Linked DNA regions of Homo sapiens: region 2 is linked to region 1. The links come from fine-mapping of genetic effects on gene expression. A gene starts in region 1. The other region holds a variant in brackets. All regions are shown on one strand. Distances are from middle to middle.

Region 1 (8,343 bases):
TAAGTGTGGGTGTGTGCCAGAATTTCACCTGTTGAGAATATATCGAGAAGTTAAGCTTGATAGTTTAACAGCTGTACTTTAAGAGTTTGGTTTGGCTTTGCTCTCTGTGTCAGTGTGTTACTGCAGTTAGCACTTAGGAATCCATGCTATAAAGCAACTAGATGATTGAACTTAACTCTCTTGGTTGTCCCCGTTGTTCAGAAATCAAGCTGCATTTCCTGGCTCTGAAACTTTGTAAACTCATCAAATTTTGCTGCAGAGAAATGTCATTAAAATAACAGTCCTTAGTGGAAAACACTAGCACCATTCATCAGTAGCAAAATGCTGAAACAGTAACTGATATTTTTAAACTGTGAATTGGAGGCATTTTTATATACTTTACACATACACACATTTAGACAGATGTGTAAGGTAAATGTTCATTTTTCCTATGCAGTTGTCCTTTAATTGTCTCTTAAAAGTGGCTTTAGTCTTGTTGCTTAAGAACATTCTGGGCCGGGCCTGGTGGCTCATGCCTGTAATCCCAGCACTTTGGGAGGGTGAGGTGGGTGGATCATGAGATCAGGAGTTTGAGATCAGCCTGACCAACATGGTGAAACCCCGTCTCTACTAAAAATACAAAAATTAGCCAGGCGTGGTGGCAGGTGCCTGTAATCCCAGCTACTCAGGAGGCTGAGGCAGGAGAATTGCTTGAATCCAGGAGACAGAGGTTGCAATGAGCTGAGATTGTACCACGGCACTCCAGCCTAGGTGACAGATCAAGACTCTGTCTCAAAAAAAAAAAAAAAAAAAAGAGAAAAGAACATTCTGTTTTAGCTTCCGTCACCTTGGAAAGTAATAACTGGTTCCAAACTGCTTTTCCTAAAGGGTTGTTGGAAGGTCCAAAGTGTGCTCATTAGAAAACTCATGCTGAACCACACAAATCTTGCCATCGTGGATGGTGCACGCATGTGGGACTATTACTTCATACACAATTGACATGGGGCCAGAAAACATGTGAACAGGAAGCCAAACCCAAGAGAAAGTTGAGGAGCTTCCAGCTTTCCATGGAGCACAGAAAGAAGCAAAATCCAGCAACAGTTTGGACTCAGGTGTCTGGGGAACTTCACAGCTGCGAACTATCCACTCTTTAAACACTGCAGAGGCAAAGCACAGTGGCTCAGGCAGCACCCAGTTGGGAGTAAATCATTATGTCGGCTAACCTAAAAAGATTGTGAGGGTGTAGTACTTGCTTATGAAGCCAAGTTTAAATGGCTTGAGTAACCTAAATGTGGAATGACCAGCACCATATATGGAAGCTCAGTATATTCTTCATACTTCAATTGTGCTAATGGGAATTTCCCCAAATATATCTTGTTCCTTCCTTAAATAATGAACTTTCCCATGATGCAGTCATCTTATTCAAAAGTATATATTTGGTGATTATTTTGCATAGCTGAGATGTTAACGGTTCCTTTTTGGGACACTTCTTTTTTTATGGCAAAAGCATTTTAGCAAAAATAGAAATGTTTTTCACCATTTCAAAAGTCAAAGATGATTTCCAAAGTTTGGTGAATTAAGTGAGCCATCAGAAGTGGAAGAAATTCAGATTGTTATCAAATGCTATCTTTCTAATAAGTGGTAAGGCTCTTTATATTTAGAGGTGGAAATAGCTTTTTAAATCTGTTTTTAAATGTGTTGATACAGTTCACGTACCAGAAAGAAATATTATACCACTTTGCAAGACTAGCCATAAAGTCTGGGGCTAAGCCCCTTTTATAAGAAATGGCATTTGCTCTGAAGTGCTCAGGTAGGGTAACAGCTCTGAAATCCAGGAAATCCGATAGAGGCTTTGCCTAGAAGATTAAGTGCTGAGCACAGAAAGGGTGAAAGGGTATAAGAAAACCAGGGTTATCAAGTAATCAGACCTCAAGATTTAAAAAGTCACAGCTTCCTGCCTGCTAATCAGATTGATTTCTATTCATTCAAAATGTTAAAATTCTTCCAGTTGTCATCTTTAAAAAATTTGCGAATGTTACCCACCTCTCCATTCCAATTATGCTCTCTTCAAGAGTATGGGAAGAATTTACTGGTCACACTGAAGAAGGATGAACTTATTGTAGACTAAATAATGACCAGGTAAGAAATTACTTCCTTTGTGTTAGTCTCTGAGTGAGTTCCTTGTTCAAGAGAAGTGAAGAATCCCTGTTAAGGAAAGGGTTTGTTTTTGATAAGTATTACTTCTTCATGCATATGTGCTTTTTATGAATAAGTATTCTACTAGCTCATAGATCTTTAGTCTCTGCTCATTTCTGAAGTCTCTGAAGAAGTAAAAATTACTCTCTTTGAGGATACACATAGCTACAGGCAAGACTGCCCTAGACATGGGCTTCCTATTGAAAAGTTAATGAGAAAAAAATTCATTTGGCAGCAGGGACACAAGATTAAAGCTCTGATTTCATTGAGTCCAGATAGTGACCATTTCTTGGGGGGCATTAGAACATAGTAGGGAGAGCTCAGTCTTTATGTATCTCCTCAAAATTTCAAAGACAAAAATCTAGCATTTTTTTTTTAAAGAGCCAGGGTCTCACTATGTTGCTCAGGCTGGAGTGCAGTATCTATTCACAAGCTTGATTATAGTGCACCATAGCCTTGAACCTCTGGGCTCATGAGATCCTCCTGCTTCAGCCTCCTGAGTAGCTGGGACTACAGACACATGCCACCACATCCAGATGATAATTTTATGCTTAAAAAAATTGCTTTTTATTTTTACTCAGCGTTGCAGTCTAACCTCTTAGTGATATCTCAACCTGATATTACTCCAACTAACTCAATTTTCTTCATAAACCAGTACCTCCTCTTGTTCTATGGTATTCTATTACAACTACCCAGTAGCCCAGGCCCAAAACTAATATTATAAAAGTTTCCTTTTCCTCCATTCCCTTCATCCAGCCCTGAGTCAAGAATGTTCTACCTTCTAAATATTTCTGGAATCTGCGCCCTATTGTCCACCTACACTGCTCAGTGCCCCCAGCAGTTCTCACTGGAACACTACAATAGTCTCTCTCTTTTTTTTTTTTTTTTTCCTTTGAGATAGGATCTCACTTTGTCACCCAGGCTGAGGTGCAGTGGCACAAACGCAACTCACTCTAGTCTCCACCTTCTAGGCTCAAGCGATCCTCTTGCCTCAGTCACCGGAGTAGCTAAGACTACAGGTGTGTGTCACAAGGCTCAGTTAATTCAGTTTGACCAAACTAAGCCTGAAATCCAGATCTCATCAAAGCTTGTGTTCCTTCTATTATGATTGAGTTTGCCTTTGAGGCTAATGCTGAGATTATGTGGTTCATCTTTGTAATCAAATTAGGTAAAGTATAGAATTTAGTGTTGAAATATCACTTTTAAATTTAGGGGTAAAAGCAACTAGAATCCAATCTTATTTTTGACTTTAATTATACCTTAGAATTTCATGGGAGCCACAGAGAATTCTAAGGGAAAATATCATTTAAAGAGAATCTAAAAAAAGACATAATTTTATAATATTTCCCATGTGTGTTAATAAATACTGAATAAACATTGCAATCTGAAAGTTGATGTGAAATAAATTTCTCCACTTGATCCATTTTGGATGTTGTACTATCATATAACATACTGAGCACTAGATAGATACAACAAATGTAAGAATTTAAGATAAAGACACATATACACACTAACATATACATACATACTATACATGGTTTTCACATCTATTCATCTAGAGGTAAAGATGATAAAGCCTTACAAATGAATCACAGCACTTACAGCATTAAAAGTGAGAGGCCTTGCTTTTCTACATTATTACCAATTTATAGTTCTTAGTTTTCTTACCTGAAATCTTATTAAAACAATAAATCTCTGTATCTCATAGCATACCAAGTTATAATCACGGTTTTATAAATGCAAATTGTACAATTGCCCAAAATAGACCCTTTGTTTTTTGGCTTGTTCAAATAGCAAGTCAGAGTTGCTAAGTATTCAGAAGTTGTGTCTTTCTTCATGTTATTCTAGAGTTTTAAATTCACCTCTTGTTGAAAAGCAGTTTCTCAAAGCAGTGAGCATAATCTCTGAGAAGAGTACTCTGTTAATTCAGCACTCTTTAAGACACATAGTTTGATAACAGGGCTTTGAGTTTTGCCTGTGCTTAAAAAGTTAGTGTCCATGTTTCTTTAATATTAGAACCTTCGGTTATGCAGTGAAAAATTTAATAAAAATTCACATGTCCACTATAGCTACAGTGTTTTGTACAGTTTACCCAAGCCAGTGCAAGTTTCAAGCCTGCACTGAAAGATGGGATTTATTTCGTAGTGTGAAAAGAAACTTTCAACAATTACAACTGATTGAAATTGTGAGTACCCAAGGCAGAGAAACTGAAGACCAAAGTGGCATCATTTCTCCTTGTCTAACAAGCCAGGTGACTAGGGCTCCTCTTAAGGGCAAAAAGGAGTGTGTGTGTGTGTGTGTGTGTGTGTGTGTGTGTGTGTGTGTAGTGTTGTGTGTGTGTGTGTGTGGTGTGTATCAACAGCCAGACATCACCAGAATGCTGTGAAAGTGGCCAATTTCAGTACCTCGCCTGGGTACTATTTTGTTAAGTGAATTAATTATCAACAGAAACCTCTTTCCCCTCTTATTATCATTACAAGGGACCAAATTTGGGTGGAAGACTTTGGCCAGAAACATACTTTCCATCATCTGAGAATATAATGAATAATAATATGATGAATAATGAATAAATAATACGAAAAGGACAGGGACAGGAAGGAAAGTTTGTCTTCTTTCTTTTTAAAGTAAAAGCAGAGCACGATACTTACAAAAGCCGCCTTCAAAATCTTCTCTAGAGAAAAAGCTCTGGGAACAGGGAGGAGGCAGAGGAGCAGAGATAAGGTGGCAGCGGGACTTCCTTCCTCCTCCGAAGGGGGAGAGTCATGTTCCTCATCTGCCCTGACCTCCGAGGAGCGCCGGCAGCCGGGAAGGCCTGGCCTCTGATCCTCGCTGCCCTCGCTCCTGGCCTCTGCGCCTGGGGTTTCCTAGTTGCCGATCAAGCCGCCCCGGCCCGACACCGGCCCCAAGATTCATTAGCGACGGTCTGCGAAGTGCTCGCAAGATGAAGACGGTTATATAAGCCCGCGTATTATTATCATCACACACCCCCATAGAACCAACGCTGCCAGACAAACAAAAGGCAGTTCCAAGAAGAGGAGGAGCAGAGGCAGAAGTTACACTAAGGGTGAATTTCGGGACACGGCTGAAAGGACTGGGGGAAAAAAAAGGGCAACTGAATATGTGCATGCAAACCTCGGCAAACAAACTGCGCTGCAGCCGGCCGGCTTGGACGGCGGCGGGCAGGGGCTCAGGGTTTCCAGGCATGTGGTTCCGGCTCCCTGAGCACCCGACACAGTAGCTGCCTGTGGCAGGATGGAGTGGATGGGAAGATGTGGTATTTGGAAAGCCAGGCGTTCCAGAGACCAAGTGCTTAGTAAACACTGATGTTTCTTAGACTCAGACCAGGTGCTTCTGCTGGTTCTCTTTATTCCTGGTCTCTTGTTTTCCTAAGGATGGTTGGCCAGGAGTTCCCTGTGCCCTGTCGACCCCTCTAATTTTAAACCTCTCTGGGTCTCTCCTCTCTTCTCTGTGGGAGCAATAAACGGAACCAGAGCGCTCTTTCCACTGAGCCTGGGTCCACTGAGAAAGTTCTGATTATTCTGAGCACCAAGCTTCCCTCCCCGCTCCCACAACTTGCTACTCATATTTTCTTTAAATTATTATTATCCTGTCCTGCGCCTGCCACTGCTTCCCAACACGCAAAGAAATTCCTCATCCTGGCACTCAAAGCCCACAATTTCTGTCTCCACACTAATTTCCCACTTCCCATCCCGCCCTCCCGCCTCACCTACTCCCCAGCACGTTATAATGTGAATCATTCTCTAAAGACGGCCTTTCAATTCTCCATTTCCCATCTTTACTCATACCCCCATCCTCACACCCACTTCCTTCAAGGCTCAGTTCAAATCCCGCCTCCCCCACAAAAGCCTTCCCCAATTTCCCCTCTTTTCTCCGTGTGACTCTGTTTCTCTGTTGTCATTCCGCATGCGTTGTCTGTCTCCATAGGTTTGGAACCTTGCGTTGTTCTCCCTGGTGGCCCAGGACAGGGCCCTGCATAAAGCAGGTGCTCAGTGAGTATTCACTGAATGAAACTGACAGCTGACCAGATCTTACCTGCATTGTCGCCAGCTATATGGGCATAGGTGAGAGCCACCACATGGTACTAAAATATGGACGGTTGTCGGATATATGCAATAGGTTCATGAGGGTGTGTAAATTTGCATAAGTTAAACAAGAAAGCTTTTCTAAAACTTGAAGGGGAGCCTCTAAACTTTACTCAAGTCAGCTTACTTTAGGGCTTAAGTTCATGAGGCAAACAAGAATGTTGGCATCTGTTGTTCCTTTGCTGCTGCACATTAGAGGACCTGTAAGTGCAACTTCCTTTACAGAATGCCAGGAAAATTCTCCAAAGGTGAGATTTTTCAGACATCACTGGCTTCTGGGACTGATTTTATGGAGGAACTCCTCCATTATTGAAATAATATGTGCTATCACAACAGCAGCTCAGCAAATGAACAACTGCTCTCTGGTGAATTGTTTTATGATATGGGGTGAAATATAGAACATGAGCTGTCAGATACTGAATTTCTTGTGGCTTTGTATTAAAGTGTTCTTAATGACATTTCCCCTGTTATTTTTTGGTAAAAGTAACATGCTTCAAATTCCACCTGTGCTAGTTGGATCGACCGTGGTGTCATTTAAGAGACTTGGGGTGTGTCTATGCAGTACATGCTCTCCACGCATACAGATTGTTCAGTGAATTAGAAGAATTTTCCCCCCTCTACTAATTTGGAACAATTAAAACCAATTCAGGTTTTAAAGAATTTTGGCCTCAAGTTCCTGAGGATTCGGCTTCAGGAATGACAGCGATCTTACTGCAAATTTGTAGTTCAAGTGTAGGATCATCTCTCATTTTGTTATGCTCAGGTGAGGACCATAACCTTTATTATAGCTACTATTTACAAATCCCTCCTGGGTTTCAGGAACTGGCCTAGATGCTTTACATGTCTTTTTAACCTAGCAGAACTATTTTTGTTTTCGTTTACAGATGGGTAAATTGAGTCTGGTCATACAGCTTAGAAAGTGACAGAACTAGGATTTGAATCTAGGTCTGATTCCATAGTCAATGATTTTTCTATTCTACTGAAAGCTGGAAGAAACCTGAGATATTATCTCATCTGGTGGTTTTCAAACTGGGTTCCAACAAGCTTTAGGCTTTCAAGGGGTACTTCAGGAACCTTGGCAGTGTGTGGGAAGGGGACGAATGTGAGGGAGGCCAGGCAATCTGGCTTGGACTTTACTCAGTTGGAGTCAAATGGAGAAATATTATCTCCATCTGTTTTATAGAGTGACTTAAGACTTTGTTTGAGACAATGGTTTTGTTGCTAAAAAAAAATTTTTAAACTCTTGTTTAACTTCCTCATTAAAGAGTATAGCCATGCATGGTGGCTCATGCCTATAATGCCAGTGCTTTGGAGGCCAAGGCGGGTGGATTGCTTGAGCCAGAAGTTCGAGACTAGCATGGGCAACATGATGAAACCCCGTCTCTGCAAAAAATAAAAAAATTAGCCAGGTGTGGTGGCGCATACCTGTAGTCCCAGCTACTTGGGAGGCTGAAGTGGGAGGATCACTTGAGCCCAGGAGGCAGAGGTTGCAGTGAGCCCAGATTGTGCCACTGCATTCCAGCCTGGGCAACACAGTGAGACCCCATCTCAAAAAAAAAAAAAAAAAAGAAAAGTATGGAACTTGGGATCCAGAAGATAAAATGCCTTGTCCAACGTGGTATAACTAAGGATGACAGGCCCAGCATTAACTTCAAATGTCCTTTATCTAAAGGATGCAAGAGGCCAGTAGTTTCAGACAGAGCCTGAACATCTCAAGTTTTGTCTTTTATATAAAGGACATTTGTTAAAAACCAGGGGAAATGAGAGAATCTACATTTCCCTGACCTGTGTGTGTCCCGACAGTATTCTTGAAAAACGGAAGGCGGGGGCCGGGCGCAGTGGCTCATGCTCCTGATCACAAGGTCAGGAAATGGAGACCATCCTGGCTAACATGGTGAAACCCCGTCTCTACTGAAAATACAAGAAATTAGCTGGGCATGGTGGCAGGCACCTGTAGTCCCAGCTACTTGGGAGGCTGAGGTAGGAGAATGGCCTGAACCTGGGAGGCGGAGCTTGCAGTGAGCCAAGATCGCCCCTCTGCACTCCAGCCTGGGCGACAGAGCAA
Region 2 (8,343 bases), 310 kb after region 1:
TTAGTGGTAATTCTACTATGTTTGTGCAAGATGCCAATATTAAGGGAAGCTGGGTGAAGGGTGGATAGGATCTTTCTGTATCATCTTTGCAACACTTTTGCAAATCTAAAATTACTTTGAAATAAAAAGTTAAAAGAAAGCAGAGTCAGTTCAGTAGGAAAATTAGTCCCTGTGCTAAACACTATTTGCCAGTGGAAAGCCAAATCAACATGCGAATAGTTGTTATTTTGAACTATTATGGAATTATGGAATTATAAAATTTCAATTATTGTGGAAAATGTATTAATGCTGAATTAGGTGTTTCTTTTTTATTATTATTAATTGTATAAATGAGAGAACCAAGGCAAGAGCTGTGAAGTGACTTCCTTAGGAATTGACATTTAATTACATGGAGAGCTGGGAAAAATGCCTAGATTTTGTGCTTCTTTGTCCAATGTCACAGGCATAACCTAAGTAGCATGTTACTTCTCTGAAATCAACAACCAATTCCTAAATGAGAAACAAGCATCTAATGTGTTCAAAGCACTGTGCTAGACTCTGAAAATATATGGTGCTCTCTCTGTCCATGATGAAGTCTATATTTGTAGCTATGTCTCTTTAAAATTCTCACAGTGTAGCTGAGAAGGCATATGCACTGATAACTGAAGCTTTATAATAACCTTTATAAAACCAGTCGGCACTAAACATTTTATGTTAAATGAGCAATTTTGACGATAATTGTCAAAAATTATAGTTTAAGTAGAAATTATTATACAACAAAACTCTTTACTGAAAAAAGTTAACCTTGTGTTGTTCCTCCATATATCAGCTCTGAAAGCATACAGAACTCTGAGCTGGCAGGAGGGCAGAGGAAATACTGACTCAATTTGTTACCACTATGTCCTTCTCTGACTCCTTGCACGTAATGTAGAGGATTGTGGTGGTAACGGGAAGAGGCTTTCCATACTTCCTTTGGACAAGATGCCTTTGCCCCTTTCTGTATTTTTTCCAGGGAATGTTACCTCAAGGGAAATGTAAGGAGGTTATTCATGTCAGAAACAGTGTTCTAAAAGTACAATGCAAGTAAAAGATATTGTCTGGAAAGGGAGCAAAGAAGTTAAAGAAGGAAAGATGAACAGCCTGCGCAAATAGTGAAATGAGAGAGTTTCGTATGTTTCCATGATTTTAATTGTGGAAAACGTGGAAGGGGTGAGTTGAAGTTGTCTCATCAGTGGCTTTGATTGTAGCAATTTGTATCCTAAAAGCAAGCCTTTCTGAACAGGCAGGACCTGGCAGCAGAATTGCAGAGTACATGTTGCCAAGTGCATAAATAAGTTTATTTTCCAACTTTTGTCAACATCAAGCCATCACAATTTTCTTTTTTTTCTTCAAGAAATCAAAGGTTATTATAAAGCCTTCGTAGACCAACCCCAGCTCGCCATCAGGTCTTTATTTTCTTCAGGCTCATCTTACATTCATCCTAGGGCAGTAATTTAACATGTATTATGAGTTGCTTGACAATCCTAGATTTTTCATTCAGACACAATGTTTCCTTGAGAATTCTAGAATGATAGTCAACCTGGTATAAGATTCTGTAGTAACACATCAATTTTTCCTGAAAAGCAAATGCCAGTCTTATTATGCTCCACAGGAGATCAGATATTGTTTGAAGGCAGTGCTGGGTCTTCAGTGGCTTTGTAACCCACCCATCCCTTGACACTGTTTTCTCAACAGTAAGTGTTTAATAAATCTTAACTGACTGGCTCACTGAGTAAATGAATAAATGAGTGATTTGTTGAATGAGTTAAATAAATGATTTCACATAAATCATTGTTAACAATGCCTGGCATTTCTTCCCCAAGAGGCAGATCCTGTGATTTAAAATTATTCTATTAAATAAAAAAGGTACATACCCATTCAAAGTTAAAGGGAGAAATGAAACATTTCTAGTCAATTCAAGGTTCACATTCACTTTTGCAAAATATATTTTCAGCTTCAAATATCCAGTGTTCCATGTTCCAGGCACTTAGTTTTGAATAATTAAACCTGGCCAAATAACCACCTGGTCTCAGGTCTCATCCTGGCATTCTTGTTTCCCCTCCCGTTCTCCTTTCCCTCCTTCCTGTGGGCCTTTGTTCATTCTGTTGCTGCTTCCTGGAATGTCCTTTCTCAACATGATCAACCGCAAACTCCAGCCCATGTTCCAACATCTAGGGCACATCCAACCTCCGCTCCCCTAATTATTGTTGGCAAATGTGTTCTGCTTTCCCTTAGCCTTATAAGATTCTCTCAAGAAAATGAGTGAGGGTTCAGTGATGTATGCTCACTTAGAAAACTGACATACATTTGGTACTTCAGTAATTCCTCTCCTTGCCTCAGCACTAGCCCCAGGACCTTCTTCCCATTCCTGCAACATGGATCATGTGCTCCTAGCTCTGATTCTGTTTTCTCTGCCTGGAAAACTCTTCCCCACATCACCTTGTGGCTTGCTCTCTCCTTTTGTTCAGGTCTCTGCTCAGGTGAGACCCTATTGGTGAGGGTTTACCTGCCAACCCTTCATCTTCATATGAAGAATGGCCTTGTGTTACTTACTGCTGAATTCCCTGACACATAATGGGCACCCAATAAACATTTATTAAATATGTAGAGTAATAAAATAATACATTTTCTTTAATTCGTGAGGCATATTAGCATATTAAATGATCAAAGGAAAGAAATATCATGAACTTACTTGCCCATGCTAGACCACACTTTCAGAAAGACAGCTGCAAGGTGTACAGACTGCTCCCTCCTCTGAACTACGACACAGTTTGTCAGAAGTGGCATATAGTTTACTGTCATGTTCATTAATTAATTAATGGGTATTATTTCATCATTTCTCCTCCCTCCAACTAGCTTTGAGCTTCCTTGAGTTCAGAGACCACAACAAACATTCTTCTGCATCTTTACAGAGCTTAACAAAGTGCAAGATGCACAGCAAACCCTCACTCAGCCGATTGCTGATTGGCAGAGCTTTCTCAGTTGTGATAAAGCAGAGTTGAGCAGATTGATGGAGAGTACACTCTCCTATTAGAAACGTTGAGCTTTAAAGATAAAATTAATGCTAAATTAGCATTAATAAGAAATTTCTGAAAGAAAATGTTTCCTTCTTTTTTTTTTTTTTTTGAGACAAAGTCTAGCTCTGTTGCCCAGGCTGGAGTGCAGTGGCGTGATCTCTGATCTCTGCGATCACTGCAACCTCTGCTTCCGGGGTTCAAGCAATTCTCCTGCCTCAGCCTCCCAAGTAGCTGGGACTACAGGAATGTGCCACCATGCCTGGCTAATTTTTGTATTTTTAGTAGAGACAGGGTTTCATCTCTCCTATTAGAAACGTTGAGCTTTAAAAATAAAATTAATGCTAAATTATCATTAATAAGAAATTTCTGAAAGAAAATGTTTCCTTTTTTTTTTTTTTGAGACAGAGTCTAGCTCTGTTGCCCAGGTTGGAATGCAGTGGCGTGATCTCTGCGCTCACTGCAACCTCTGCTTCTGGGGTTGAAGCAATTCTCCTGCCTCAGCCTCCCAAGTAGCTGGGACTACAGGTACATGCCACCATGCCTGGCTAATTTTTGTATTTTTAGTAGAGACAGGGTTTCATCATGTCGGCCAGGCTGGTCTCAAACTCCTAATCTCAGGTGACCCACCTGCCTTGGCCTCCCAAAGTGCTGGGATTACAGATGTGAGCCACTGCACCTGGCCAGGAAAATATTTACTTTTCTTTGTAACCAAGTATGTGTTGTCACACCCAATTCGAATATGGATATAGTTTGCTTGGAGTTTAATTTTGTTGGTTTAATAGTGGAAAGATATATATATATATATATATGCATACCATCAAAATGAAAAGAAAATGAAAGGAAAAGCATAAATTCTATAGACAGATTTTCAAATGCTTCTGTGGAAAATGACTTTATTGATTGTTTTAGATATGAAGATTGGACAAAGTATCCAGAACTTTGCCTCAGAAAACTTAGACAAAGCCAAAACATTTTAATAAAACCTTATTAAAATGTTATTCAAAATGGATATAAAATCATCATGATTTTAAGGAAGTACTGTTTTTCAGATTTGAAGATACTGAAATGGCCTTGTTTCTTTTGAGAAGAGATGGATGAGATGGGTACAAGAGTTTCTTTTTCCTAGGAAAAGCACACACAAGAATGGCTCAGCCATAAACATCTGGTGAGTCAACACTGGACTTTTATG[A/G]GAATTCTGGTCTTTTCTTTCTTAGGGCAATGACTCAACTAACTGCCCAAGGGACACATGAAGTACAATATTTTTATGACAGTATTTTTTATTCTTTTGTAGTGGTCACTAAAGAAAAAATTGTTTCTTGGAAACATAGACTCACAGGGCTATGTTTAAAAGATACAAACTGCTACTGAGTCTTGTTTTTATTCTCATTTTAAAATTTACATAAACTGAATTTGTTTCCCTCAAGTAAATGTAAAATAATTTTTTGACATTTAAATACCATCAATATACTTTAAAAATATTTTAAAATTAAGAGTTATTATAAATTTTAAACTTGGCAATAGTCATAGATACATGTCAAAACCAAAATAGAAAAAGTTAAAGAATATACCTTCAAGAACATGAAGGCATGAACAAACATGTATTAGGATTGTTATAATAAGAGTTCCTGTTATGATTTATAAATATGCTTGTGAAAGTACTTAGGTAGGAGACATTTAAGCTATCATAATTCAGGAAAGGTAAATTACAGAGTAAAGGTGTTTGTATGTCTTATCTATTACAACCCTTTTTGCTTTTCTTTTGACATGCTACCAAAAATATTAATTACAAAATGACTTCTGTAGGACTTCTAATATTGATTGTGTCTGTATCTAGATACTCTATCAAAAGAAAGAGATGCAATGTAGGTAGAAGCCTTCATCTTTTGAAGTAACAGACAAACTGGAATTTAAGCATTCCAAACGCTAGAGTATTGTTTAATCTGGTATTGCCCAAGTTGTGCTCCAAGTTGGTAGAGGGATGTGAGTGATGGTAAGGCTGAGGTGATATGCCATGAGTTGGAACTGGAGCATCCTCACTCAAGAAGACAGGTGAAGAGGAGACAGACCAAAGTCATGAACAAGTAGATTGAGGCTGAAGACCAAGGTAAATCTCCAGAGACGAGAGAGCAAGAGACACAGGGGAGGACAGAGGGAGGGCTGGGGCGGCATGCTCTCTGACTTTCATGAGCTTTACTTGGATGCGTAATGGATGGGTAGACTTCAGGGACCACAGAGAGTGCTGAAAAATGTGACTGTGGACAAGTCATTGCACTCCCTGGCCTCTGTAATAAAGAATGAAAAGAGCTCTGTGGTGCTCAGGGAGTGCGGCTGCAGGAGACACCACACAGTCACCTGGAAAACAGACTCCGGCTCTGTCCCCCGCTGACCTGCCCTATCCACACACACTCTGATCACATTTCAAGCTATATCCCCAACATATAACTTTCTTTTCTGGCCTGTTATGCTTCTCTCTCAGTTTGTTCCCTTTTTATTTCCATCTGCTTTCCCCAGTCTCTCTAGAATACTGGTGAATAGTTATCTGTCTAGTTCACTCAGAGTTTACCTCATTCAGTCATCACAACAATTCAGTGAAGCATTTCCTTCCCTGCTTTGCAGATGGGAAAAAGTGTGGCAACTTGCTCCCTCAAACCATAATCTACAAAGTAACTGGCACCAGTTATGTTGTCAATTGTGTTGTAAAAGACAAATAAATAAAAATCTACCATGATTGTCCCACTCATAAGTAGCCACTGTTGATACCTGGTGTGGAAATACATATGTATATCTGAAATTGGGATCAAATTGTTTTTGTAGTCCCCATCCCAGAATAACATATTACATGTATTTTTTTTTCTCATTTCAATCAGAACTCTTTATGGTCACTTTAGAAAGTGCTCATATTTTTCATTCTCTTTTGTTTTTGAAAAGATGGGGTCTCACTAGGTTGGCCAGGCTGGTCTCAAACTCCTGGCCTCAAGCAATCCTCCCTCCTCAGTGTCTCAAAGTGCTGGGATTATAGGTGTGAGCCACTGTGCCCAGCCCTATTTTTTATTTTTATCCCATTTCCCTACACCCCCTAAACTATCAAGGTAAGATTATCACCAGCTGCTAGATTCTTCTCTGAGCCACTTTAGGACAATGTATTAGTCTGTTCTCACGCTGTTATAAAGACAAACCTGAGACTGGGTAATTGATAAGGAAAGAGATTTAAGGACTCACAGTTCCACATGGCTTAGGAGGACTCACAATCATAGTGAAAAGCAAAAGAGAAGCAAAGGCATGTCTAACATGGTGGCTGGCAAGAGGGCATGTGCAGGGGAATTCCCCTTTATGAACTCATTAGATCTCCTGAGACTTATTCACTACCACAGGAACAGTATGGGGGAAACCGCCCCCATGATTCAATTTCTCCACTTGGCCCCGCCCTTGACACATGGGGATTATTACAATTCAAGGTGAGATTTGGGTGGGGACACAGCCAAACCATGTCACACAGTCTCCACTGTTACGAAGTTTGGCCTCAAAGAGGAGGTTCCTATGACATATTCTAAGATAACAAATAGAAGCACTTTTATACATTTAGTTACCTCTATGATATCTGTGAGCTCACAGATATTCATGGGTTTCAGTCTAAGAGGAAGGAGAATATTGAAAAATGATTTAGTTTATCAACACAAAATATCTTTGGAGAAAAGCAAAGGAAACTTCAGGAAGAAATTCAAACTTTTAGCAAATTTTGATTTACACACTCCAATCAAAGGGCAACTTTTGTCTCCACGAATCTGTGCTGTCTGGTTTGTCCATTCCCAGCTAGCTTTTTGCCTTAATTTGGATAAGTCTAAGTGCAGCTTTATCAATCCAGGCCTGTTTCTTGGTGCTGTCACGAACAGTTGGCTCTGGCACACATAATGACACTTGGAAGGAAAGTCTTATTTTAACAACGCTGTTGACTTTCCAACTTCTGCGTTACCACAGTCATCAGAGTCCAATTTACTCTTCAGGGGCCCTAATCATTCTATACCTGAACTGGACAGAAAGAAAATAATTTGTTCACTTAACAGAAAGAAAGTCTATACTCCCAAAACAAAATGAGTCAGACAGTGATCTTTGAATTAACAGGCTCTGCTGACGGACTATTTTCCCCACTTTTCATCAGTCTGGTGACAGTGGACTCTGGACAGAGATAAATGAGAGGTCAAGCTACCCTTCATTTTTCCAGAGGATTATTTCACCCACAGATAAGGCACGAAGAAGGAAGTAATAGTCAAGACCAGCCTGTGAGAAAACAACAAAAAAAGGATAACTAACAAAAGCCCCATTCTCCAGCTCTTGCCCCGGCCAGCGCTTCAGCACGGTGAGCACTCCCACTATAGCAAGCAGAGTTTGTTATTTTTTTCAGTGAGGGGGGTAATAACCCAACAAAGCTAATAGGTGGCAAGGGTGATTGTGCCTCAAGTATTAGATGCTTGTGTTACTTTTCCTAACTTTATAGCTGGTGTTAGAATACCAAAAGAAAATTTTTAAAAAGTTTCTGCACCCAGTTTTTTCATAGTACAGAAAGCCTGGCACCATACAAAAGAAGGTATGCTAAAATATATTTACTGACTGGTTTTAAATGAAGAGAAGAGTGATAAACTTCATAATGTCATTGTGAGATTTAAGTTTTCATTCTCCGTTTTGAGGAAGGAAAATAACTTTCCAAATGCTATTATTATTCTTAGGATATATTGAGGAAACAAGAAGGGTTATCATGATAATAAGTAAAAAGCAAACAAAGATACACATGAACTTGTTACAGACTTTCTTATTGTTAAATTTGATTTCATCAACAATAAGAAAGAAGTAAGTCTACTTCCTTTTTGAGTCACTGTCAAACTTTATTCTACTATGGAAGATAGTTTTTAGATTCTTTGAATTTTCTTAGGGAAATCCTAATCCTAATATATAAAGGACTTGAACAGTTGTCATTTCTATTTCTCCAATTATTTTAAATTTATGGTTCAAAGCAACATAGAGACAGGATGAGTTTTTAGAGACTTAGCACTCCTTAAGGTTGCCAAATTAAACTCAGCAATTAGAATTACTACTGATAAAACTACATTTAAATAGGCACATCAATTAATGTATTTTCTCTAGGAAGTACTTGAGAAAACAGAATGCACAAATGGCTTACACGCTGCAGAATAAAAAAGGTACATGAGAATCAAAAGATTTATCTGATAATGACTTCTGTTTATGTGGATGTTATAGACATTACATGCAAACCGGCTCATTTTCACAAGGTGCATAGTGAAAAATGCTTTTCATG

Which allele goes with the higher level. Alleles are on the strand shown, and positions count from the first base shown. SD is a standard deviation of normalised expression in the study named.
As copies of A replace G in region 2, the expression in tibial artery of the gene that starts at base 5,102 in region 1 goes down (small effect, 0.21 SD a copy in GTEx).

What was found. PIP is the estimated chance that this variant, and not a neighbour inherited with it, causes the effect. A credible set is the group of variants that fine-mapping cannot tell apart.
Region 2: its variant is the best candidate, but not a certain one, in a credible set for the expression of SULF1 in tibial artery (GTEx, PIP 0.66).

Annotation. Positions count from the first base shown.
Region 1 is chr8:69,489,606-69,497,948 of GRCh38, reverse strand. SULF1 (sulfatase 1) reads right to left here and starts at 5,102. Exons shown (of 23, transcript NM_001128205.2): 1 at 4,824-5,102; 2 at 2,023-2,184.
Region 2 is chr8:69,177,161-69,185,503 of GRCh38, reverse strand. No RefSeq gene overlaps it. Among named protein-coding and RNA genes, the nearest start is that of LINC01592, 77 kb to the right of the region's middle. The variant A/G (reference allele first, on the strand shown) is at 4,225.